Regions from separate parts of the Homo sapiens genome. Here region 1 is linked to region 2. The links come from fine-mapping of genetic effects on gene expression. A gene starts in region 2. The other region holds a variant in brackets. All regions are shown on one strand. Distances are between the middles of the regions.

Region 1 (5,239 bases), 97 kb after region 2:
CTGACTTTTTAATGATTGTCATTCTAACTGGTGTGAGATGGTTATCTCATTGTGGTTTTGATTTGCGTTTCTCTGATGGCCAGTGTTGATGAGCATTTTTTCATGTGTCTGTTGGCTGCATAAATGTCTTCTTTTGAGAAGTATATGTTCATGTCCTTTGCCCACTTTTTGATGGGGTTGTTTGATTTTTTCTTGTAAATTTAAGTTCTTTGTAGATTCTGGATATAAGCCCTTTGTCAGATGGGTAGATTGTAAAAATTTTCTCCCATTCTGTAGATTGCCTGTTCACTCTGATGGTGGTTCTATTCTGTTCAGAAAATTCTGTTCTATTGGTCTGTCTGTCCAGTCGTGAACTATTATTATGCTAATTTAATTATAGAAGCTTTATAATATGTTTTCATATCTGATATGGCTATGCTCCCCTCCCCACCATTGCTCTTGTCTTTCTTGCTTCTTGGCTGTTCTTGCCTGTCCTTTTTTCTATGTGACTTTATTTTTTTAATTGTATAAATTTATGGGATATAAGTACAATTTTATTACATGCATAGTGGTGATGTCAGTGCTTTTAGGATATCCATCACCCAAATAACGTACTTTGTACCCATTAAGTGATTTCCAATTATCCATCCCCTTCCACTCCTTCACTCTTCTGAGTCTCCATTGTCTATCATTTCCCTCTCTACTTACATATACACCTTTTCTGGCACTCATTTATAAGTGAGAACATGCAATATTTATATTTCTGTGTCTGGCTTGTTTCATTTATGACAATGCCCTCCTGTTCCATCCAAGTTCCTGCAAAAGACATGATTTCATGTTTTTATGGCTGAATAGTACTTTATTCTTTATATATACCACATTTTCTTTATCCAGTCACCTGCTGATGGAAACTAGGTTGCTTCCATATCTTTGCTATTGTGAGTAGTTGATAAACATACAAGTGCAGGTATCTTTTTGATATATTGATTTCTCTTTCTTTGGCCAGATACTCAGTAATGAGATGGCTGGATCAAATGGTAGTTCCATTTTTAGTTCTTTGAGAAATCTCCCTACTGTTTTCTATAGAGATTTTACTAATTTACATTCCCGTCAACAGTGTATAAGCATTCCCTTTTCTCCACACCCTCCCCCAAATCTTTTATCTTTTGAATAATAGCTTCTGATTGGGGTAAGATGATATCTTATTGTGGTTTTAATTTGCATTTCTCTGATGATTAGTGACGTCAAGCATTTTTTCATATACCTGTTGGCCATTTGTATGTCTTCTTTTGAAAAAATGTCTATTTATATCCTTTGCCCACTTTTTAATGACAGTATTTGTTTTTTTTTTTCCCATTGAGTTTTTTGAGTTCCTTGTATATTCTGGATATTAGTTGCATGTAGGATAGTTTCCAAATATTTCTCTCATTCTGCAGATTATTTGTTCACTCTGTTGATTCTTTCTTTTGCTGTTCAGAAGTGTTTTCATTTAGTTATGTCCCATTTGCCTGTTTTTATTGCCTGTGCTTTTGAGGTCTTAGTCATAAATTCTTGCCTAGACCTATATCTAGAAGAATTTTCCCTAGGTTTTCTTCTAGTATTTTTATAGATTTGGGTCTTTTGTTTAAGTCTTTAATCCATCTTCAGTTGATTTTGGTATATCCATGCGACTTTAGAATAATTTTGTCTTCTTTATGAAAAATCTTATTAGCATTTTTGTTGGAATCACAATAAATAAATAAATAGGTTAACTTCGGGAGAACTAACATCTTTATGATAATGAATTTCCTTATCCAAGAATTTATTATGTGTCCCAATTATTCAAGTTTAACTTTGTGTCTTTTTGAAATGTTTTGAATTTTTCCTCATATAGGTTTTGTATGTTTCATGTTCCATTTTCTTCCTAGGTATTTTATGGTTTTTTGGTTGTTGGTTTTTTGTTTTGAAACAGGGTCTTGCTCAGTTGCCTAGGCTGGAGTGCAGTGGCATGAACATGCCTCACTGCAGCCTTGATCTCTTG[G/T]GCTCAAACAATCCTTCTGCCTCAGACTTCTGGGTAGCTGGGACTACAGGTGTGTGCCACACTTGGCTAATTTTTTTTTTTTCATAGAGATAGGGTCTTTCTTTGTTGTGCAGGCTGGTCTTGAACTCCAGGCCTTAAGTGATCCTTCTGCCTCGCCTTCCCAAAATGCTGATATTACAGGTGTGAGCTACTGCATCTGGCCTGTAGTTTTTTAAATGGGATCTTCTCTTTCATGATATATTCTAACTGGCTTACACTTGTGGATAGGAAAGCTATTGATTATTTCATTCAATATTAAATTTACTTTTTTGTTTTACTGAATTCTTTTTTATTGGTTATATATAATTTTTCATGAATGTATAGTATTGCATTATATAAAAATACTGTAAGTTAATTAACCAAACTCTTGATATTGAACATTTAGTTTTATGTGTGTGGGAGGTGGGTATGTTTTACATTTTCCCACTATTAATACAAAGATGTTTACATCCTAGTGGCTAAATATTTTTTGTTTCTTTAATAATTTCCTTATAATAGATTCCTGGAAGTGAATTTGCTGCTTCATTGGATGTCAAAACTGGAAAGCTTTAAGAAATATGTTTTGACAAATTGCCCTGGAGAGGGCTTGTACCCATTTATTCTCTAACAAGTTATGTCTGAGAAGGAACAGAGTTTAATTTTACTGGGCCAAGCAAAACATCAAGCTCATTAAAGGCCTAGGGCAATAACTTTCAGATTATTTAGTCACAGACTTTCTGTTTACAAGGAAGTTTATGTATTATATTGAATTATATGAAATTGACATTTTTGCAGGCAATATGGTTGAATATCAGCAGTTTCCTATTGTTCAACTTAACAGAAGCCTAACAGGTATAGCAAAAAAAAAAAAAAAACACAGCTGTTTTGACTGATGATGGAGTAGGGGTATTCAGAAGACCTCAGAGAAGGGCTTAAGAGCAGCTCTCTAGGCACAAAGCCCTGGGTGGGAAGGCAGGTGCGGGATCTGGGAACCCTCAGGGCTTCAGTCAGGGCGAGTGTGTGGACAAGGGTGGTGGACAGTGTGAGGGCCCTGATTGCCTGTGGGATAGGAGCTGGCAGAGAGGACAAGAACATCAACATCTGGCAAGGGAACAGGTGCTTTGGACATTTGCCTTTAACAGCAAGTCTGACCTTGCCCTTTTGTGGGATTGCAATGTCTGAGAAGCAGTACCAAGTTCCTACAGTGTCTCTGTGATGTGTGGAAAGATGTGGGTTCAATCCCAGATCAAGTATTTATTAACAATGTGACTTAGGGCAAGTTTGTAAGTTTTTCTATGAGTTAGTGTTCTTTTCTGTAAACTGTGAATAAGAATTCCTACCATATCAGTTTGTTGTTAAAATACGATGCTATGGCCGGGCATGGTGGCTCACGTCTGTAATCCCAGCACTTTGGGAGGCTGAGGCAGGGTGATCACAAGGTCAGGAATTCCAGAGCAGCCTGGCCAATATGGTGAAACCCCGTCTCTACTAAAAATGCAAAAATTAGCCTGGCGTGGTCGTGGGCGCCTGTAATTCCAGCTACTTGGGAGGCTGAGGCAGGAGAATCTCTTGAACCCGGGAAGCAGAAGTTGCAGTGAGCCCGAGATCGTGCCACTGCACTCCAGCCTGGGCAACACAGTGAGACTCCATCTCAAAAAAAAAAAAAAAAAAAGATGATGCTACAAGCTACCTTAGATACTTAAAGTATTACATAGTACACAATAGATTCTCAAAAATGTCAGTTGTAATAATAATTTCATTATCTTATATTCATTCCTTTTGCTCTCATCAAGGTTCAAAAGGACATCCAAATGTGTGTTTGTTTAGAGTTTATCTTAGGGATTCCACCTCCCTAATATGTCTGTGAACCAAGGAATAGAATAACAGTAATAATTCCTCTCATTTTGTAGAAAAGAAACTAGAGCAGCTTATTGTTTAGCTCCATGAGGACCATTAAGCACTGGGACTCATTTTTATTCTCAAAGACTCCCAGGTGAAAAAGACCTGGAAATCATCTGTTAGTTCAGGTTGAGTCTGATTTCTGATTCACATCTGCAACACTCTTGGTGAGACACGAGCAAGCCTAAGGATGGATAGCAAAACCCACAATACCCATGCCATCACGCCTCTTTCAAGGTCTCATGTAAATATTATTAATTTTTTTAACTTGTCCAAGTTCACAAAGCTAACTCTTTTTTAATGATATTTATTTTACTGCTGAGCCCTGATGGGCCTCAGAATCCTTTTCAACAAATTCTGGAAGCAGCTAATACTAAACAATTTGATCTGTCACATTGAGTTGAAATCTATGTGCTGTTCTGACCCAGCCTCTAGCCGAGAGCTAGCCAAAGGCTGGGAATGCATTTCTACTTGCAAGAGCTAGTTTCATCTCTGGAAAAACATGCTGTCTCATTTCACTTTTTAATTCCCCCAAAATATATGCATAAATGCTTAATAAAGATTTTTATAATGAATGAATAAATAAATAACTAAAGGAAAGATTTACAGAAGTGTTTCATAACTTGCCTCAGATCTCCTGGAAAATGTGTTGGTTCATCAGACATTTACTGAGAACCTATTATGTTAAGTACCATTTATGTGAGGTGATCAGGAAAGTCTGCAATGATATGACTTTTTAAGTTATGGTGAAATATACGTAACATAAAATTGACCAGTTTAACCATTTGAAAGGTACAGTTCAGTGGCATTAAGTACAATCTCACTGTTATGCAACCATCGTCCACATCCATCTCCAGAACTTATTCACGATCATAAACTGAAACTCTCAACTCATTAAACCCAAATCATCCACTATTCCATCCCCCCATCCCCTGGCAACCACTGTTCTACTTTCTGTATCTATGAATTTGACTACTCTAAGAACCTCATACGTGAATTCATGCAATATTTATCCTTTTGTTTCTGGCTTATTTTACTCAGGATAATGTCTTCAAAAGTTCATCCATATTGTAGCACATACGAGAAGATGACTTTTTAAAAAGTTTTTAATTAAAACATAACATAAAAAGTGAAAAGTGCATAACTTGCTCACAACCTGAACACATCAGGGTAAGTAGTGTCTACATAAGAAATGGAAAGTTACTAGAAGGGCAGAAGACCTCCCCATACTCCACTCCTAACCCCCGAGAATAATCTCTATCCTGACTTCTAACAGCGTAATTTTGCCTAGTTTTTAACTTTACGTAAATTAAAGCATACAGT
Region 2 (5,239 bases):
TCTCTTTTCTCTGTCTTCCCCTTTCCTCTTTGGGAAGCAATTTGTATCTTACGGTTTCAAAATCATTCTCTCACATGATTGCTCTCATATCCATATTCTCAGCCCCATATCTCTACCTACCACTAGGGAAGTTCCACTTGAATACCACATACATTTCATATATGTGTATGTCTTAAGCTCGGTTTACCATTCTCCCCTCCAAAAGCTTATCAATGTTAACACCTTTAACTCAATCCACCACTCATAAATTTAGAGTTCATATTTACTCTTCTATTTTTCTACTTCTGTATGTAATTGCAACAAAGTTCCATGGCTTTTTTTTTTTTTTTTCTCAAAAAGTTCTTCTTTGGGTTTCTAGTGCTATCAACCTTGTACAGGCAGGCCCTTATTATTTTGGTCCTAAATACTGCAATAGTAATTGAACTTGTTTCCCTTTCCTGATTCTGTCCTCATTCCATGTCCCTCCACTAGACTAATTGTCTATTTAATGCATCACTGTCACAATAATACTCTCCTGATACACAACCTCTTGTTGCATTTAAGCTCAATTTCATGTTTCTAAGACTAACAGTCAATGTCCTTCACTATCTGATCTCAACCATTGGACTTAGTTGTATTTCCTTGCTTGGCCTCCATGTTGAGCATTTCATACTTATGTCCATTCCACATGCATTTCCTTACGATTGGAAGTTCTTCACCTATTCTTTTGCTTTTCCAAATGCGTCTTGCATTCAAGTTCTATTGTCTCTACAAAGTTTCCCTTACTCTCCGTCCATGGCAATGCCCTTTTGAACATCTTTAGCCCTTATCCTCTGCACCATTTGTTTTGCTTTAAGGAAATTTTCCTGAAATTTGTTGTTGCTGTTGTCTGCATGACTGACTGACTGACTGAATGAATGAATATCTTGCATTGCTACTTATTTGTTTTATGCATTTATCTTCCTACCATGAAGATTTTAAGTTTATGGAAGGTAAGACCAAATATAATCTTTCTTTTGCATATATTTTACCACCTAGTGCAGTATAATATCCCAAACAGAGATAATTCAGAGGGCAAGGATTATTTATTGACAGTGTGGCCTGATGCCTAGAAATCTGCATTTTTAACAAGTCTTGTACCCTCCTCCCCACCCCATAGGATTTTGATGTTCTGCTTGTGAGTAGGGATCTTGTCTATTTTCTTTATCATGTGTCTTCAGTGCCTGGCATATAGTAAGCATTAAGTAACATTTTTGAATTAGTTATGCAGTTGATCACAAACTATGTTTTGAAACTACATCCTGGGAGAAAGAGTAGGAGATTAAATAACACACTGAACTACTATATGTTGCACATGTATTTGCATGTTGCAAAAATGTGTGTGAAATGTTTTGAAAAGCTTAAAGCAATTTTTTTTTTTTGAGATGGAGTCTCACTCTGTCACCCAGGCGGGAGTGCAATGGCTCCATCTCGGCTCAGTAAAACTGCTGCCTCCCAGGTTCTAGCGATTTTCCTGCCTCAGCCTCCCAAGTAGCTAGGATTACAGACATGTGCCAACACGCCTGGCTAATTTTTGAATTTTTGGTAGAGAAGGAGTTTCACCATGTTGACCAGGCTGGTCTCGAACTTCTGACCTCAGGTGATCCACCTGCCTTGGCCTCCAAAAGTGCTGGAATTACACGCGTGAGCCACTGTGCCCAGCCCATTTAAAGCAATCTTAAAGTGTAAACTATTATTGCAAGATACCAACGTAGATTTTTTTAATAAGTGTTAATTTCTCTTTTGTTGGGAGGTAAACTGCCCTAGGAAAGACAAAAATAATCTTGTAAGCTTACTTTTTAGGTTTCTTTCTATTTATAAAGAAGAGAAAAAAATCACCATTTTTTGTGCAAATCATAGACCTTTGAGTTAGAAGGGCACCAAAAGTTTCAGCTCTATTCCCTTTAAACAAATACAACATTTATTGCATTAGTTATGGGTGAGGAAATTGAGGCTTAGAAGGATTTGAAGATTTGCTCAAGGTGGAGATTCTCAAAAGTGTCCTCAGATACCTGCATCCTAACTTCCTGGGAAGTTTGTTCTAAAGTTTAGACTCCAGAGCTTCACCCAAAACTTACTGCTAAATTAAATCCTTTAAAGGAAATCTGCATTTTTAGGATCTCCTCTTATGCCTTCCAGCATAGTGCTTCTCAAACCCTAATGTTCATCTGAATCACCTAGGAGTCTTATTAAACTGCAAAGTGTGATGTAGCATGTCTGGAGTGGGGCTCAAGATTCTGTTTTTGTTTGTTTGTTTTTGTTTTTCAACTTTTATTTTAGATTTAGAGGCCACATATGCAAGTTTGCTACCTGGGTATGCTGTGTGATGCTGACATTTGTGGTATGAATGATTTTATCACCCAGGTACTGACAATAGTACCCAACAGTTTTTCAACCTTTGCTCCCTCGGTCCCCTCTCTAGTAGTCCACAGTGTCTATTTGTTGCCATCTTTATATCCCTGAGTGATATGGTTTGGCTGTGTCCCCACCCAAATCTCATCTTGGCCAAGAAGCCAAGTTTTAATGGGTACACAAGTGCATAGGAATTGGAGAGTGGGGAGCGTGAGTTGACTATTGGTCAGGGACTGTCAACGGAAGGGAAGGAACCAATGATGGGAGTGAGAGCCCAGAACTCGGTGTTCGAAGTGGGTAATTTATGGGAGGGGCATACCTACGAGCAGACAATGCACTCAGACAAGGAAGATTTGCACATTGGACAGAAGAGACACCTTTTTCCTCTGCAATAAGAACCAAGGAGGTAAGTAGGGGGTCTGATATGAGTTTGTGCATGTGTGCAGGGTGAGTGAGACAATCCATATATTTGAGAAAAGACAGTGAAATCTTTAAAGGTAAAAATAATAAAACCAGCTGTGGCACCTATTGGATAAGGAATTACTAACTGATGATTTAGAAATTCCTTTATGTGCGTTAGGAGCTCATTTGTTATCCCCATTTTACAGATGCGCAGCCCCAGGTTCAGCAATTTGCTCTAAATGAGACTGTAGAGGCTAATTCCAGCCCCCGGCAGCTCTCACCTTAAGCTGCCTGGCTGAGGTCAGCAGTAAGTTACCTGGCAGCGTCCGGGGGCCTGCAGCCGAGGACAGGGCTGGAACTACACTTCCCAGTGTGCCAGGCGGGGCGGGGCGCGGCGGGGAGGGCGCAGGCTCCTTCCCAGAAGCAAAAGCGGAAACAAAAGAGTCTCGCCGGCGTCCCCGCCCGCACACTCGCGCACACTCGCGCTCGGGCGCACACGGAGCAGGGACCGGCGCCCGGAGCGAGCCAGGGAGCGGCTAACCGGGGACCCACCGCGCGGAGCCAGCCTAGCTGCCAGCGAGCCCAACCCGCGACGACCCACGCCCCTGAGCCCCGCAGCCGACCCCTGCCGGCCGGTGTCCCCACCGCCATCCCTGACCCATGGCGCTGAAGAGGATTCAGAAAGTGAGTGCCGGGGCCGGGCCTGGGGCTGCGGGGCAGCGGCCCCCTGCCCACGCTGACTCGGCCAGTGGTCCCGAGAGACATGCGGGGAGAGCAAGGGATGGAAGGGTGGGCCGGGGTGCGGGCAGGGAGCTGAAGGCTCGGGCCGGGCCAGCGGGCATCGGACAGGTGAGGTGGGAGCAGGGTCAGGTCCCAGGCGGCCGGAGGAGCTTGAAGGCTGGGGGCCCGCGCGCGTTCGCGCCGGAGCCGCTCCCGGAGCCCCAGGGTAGAGAGCCTCTTGCGCGTCCAGACCGTCCCGAAATCTGTGCTTCACGGTCACGGCCGGGTTTTGCCCTCCATGGGGCTAGTTTTGACCCCTGTCATGCTGTGTTTTCTCCAGGCTGTTTCTTAAGCCTGTCCTCTTTTATGTTCTTGCTTACCCGGCCTCCCCGGGAGGGCAAGGAAGGTGGGGTGGGCCTGCAGCCTTTCTCCGCGGAGCTGTCGGGTTGGTTCTTTCTCTCCTCTGCGGTTGGCTCTTGCTCAGTTGCCCGAATGGGCTGGAAAGCCCATTTGCGGCCAAGAAGTCAGGAGAAGGCTCCTGCCCCTTCTATTTTGGTGCCTCTGCTGCTGCCACTTCAGGTCACATAGCTGTAGCGAAAACATAGTTGCTGATACACAACAAGATGACCTCCTGGCTGTGATTCACGGTGAGTCAAGCCAAACAGGTTTTTTTCCCCCTCATGATAAACTTAGATGTAAAGTTCGAGACACAACATAAACTGTCGCAAATAAATTGTTTTGATGCTTTGACACATGGGTATAGAATGAGGAAGAAATATATATCTTCATCCAACAACTGTTTACCCATCTCAACCCTGTGTATGGAATCGTCTTTTTTTCACAGTATTTATTGCCACCATTTCAGATGCGAACATCCTTCAGAATTCAGATTCGGGCATTTCTTTCTGTTCATTTTTATTTCTTGTTGGTCTGTGTACTGACCCAAGTTTTAGGTTTTACAGTTACAGTTCACACTGGCAACATTGAGAATGTGTTTGTTAAATAGGGAGTGCTTTTCACTAAGTTAAGCAACAATGGACAGTGTATTTTGTAGTTGTTTCAGAAGAAATTGATGCCCACATTTTTATCCACTTTTTTGACCAGGAGTCCATTATAGCAATAGTATATGTTAGAGCAGTGATAGTGACGTACGCATTGCATTCTGACTCGCCACTGGTGACATCTTTAGGTACAGAGGACAGCAACTTTTAGAGCCTGCCAGTTTTTTATTTTCAAATTCTAAATCTGTGGATCACCTGTTATTTTTTGTGCCATTTAAAGGTCATCTCATTGTAAAACATACAGTTAACAATCAGCATCAGCATTTATTAAGTAATAATGTTTTCTTGTTTGAAGGTAGCGCAATTACACATTGTTTTATATAAATACCCTAATTTTGAAGCCTTAGCATCTTTACCATACCTTGCATACTTATTAATGACGAAGTAATATTGGTTCACATTTGGATCAGAAAATGCACATCTTCCAAGGAAGTTTTCAAATTCTATTTCCTTCTTTCCTAGTTGTGAGAATTTTTCACATGATTTTGCACATACAAGAGCTTTTTAAATTTCATTGTGTTTTTTTAAGAGATGGGGATCTCACTATATTGCCCATGCTGATCTTGAACTCCTGGCCTCCAGAAAGTCTGGGATTACAGACACAAGTCACCATACCCAACTAACAATAGCTTAAGCTGTATAATTTGTCCACAGTAAGTGGATATTCAAAGAAATATGAACATTAT

What was found. PIP is the estimated chance that this variant, and not a neighbour inherited with it, causes the effect.
Region 1: its variant is the best candidate, but not a certain one, in a credible set for the expression of UBE2D1 in blood mononuclear cells (TOPMed, PIP 0.62).

Annotation. Positions count from the first base shown.
Region 1 is chr10:58,428,956-58,434,194 of GRCh38, forward strand. LOC105378316 (a long non-coding RNA gene) reads left to right here and starts at 4,971. Exons shown (of 5, transcript XR_945984.3): 1 at 4,971-5,086. The variant G/T (reference allele first, on the strand shown) is at 2,000.
Region 2 is chr10:58,331,770-58,337,008 of GRCh38, forward strand. It overlaps UBE2D1 (ubiquitin conjugating enzyme E2 D1), which reads left to right and starts at 3,237. Exons shown (of 7, transcript NM_003338.5): 1 at 3,237-3,456. The coding sequence starts at 3,433. RefSeq lists enhancers at 2,901-3,401, 3,000-3,294 and a silencer at 3,102-3,621.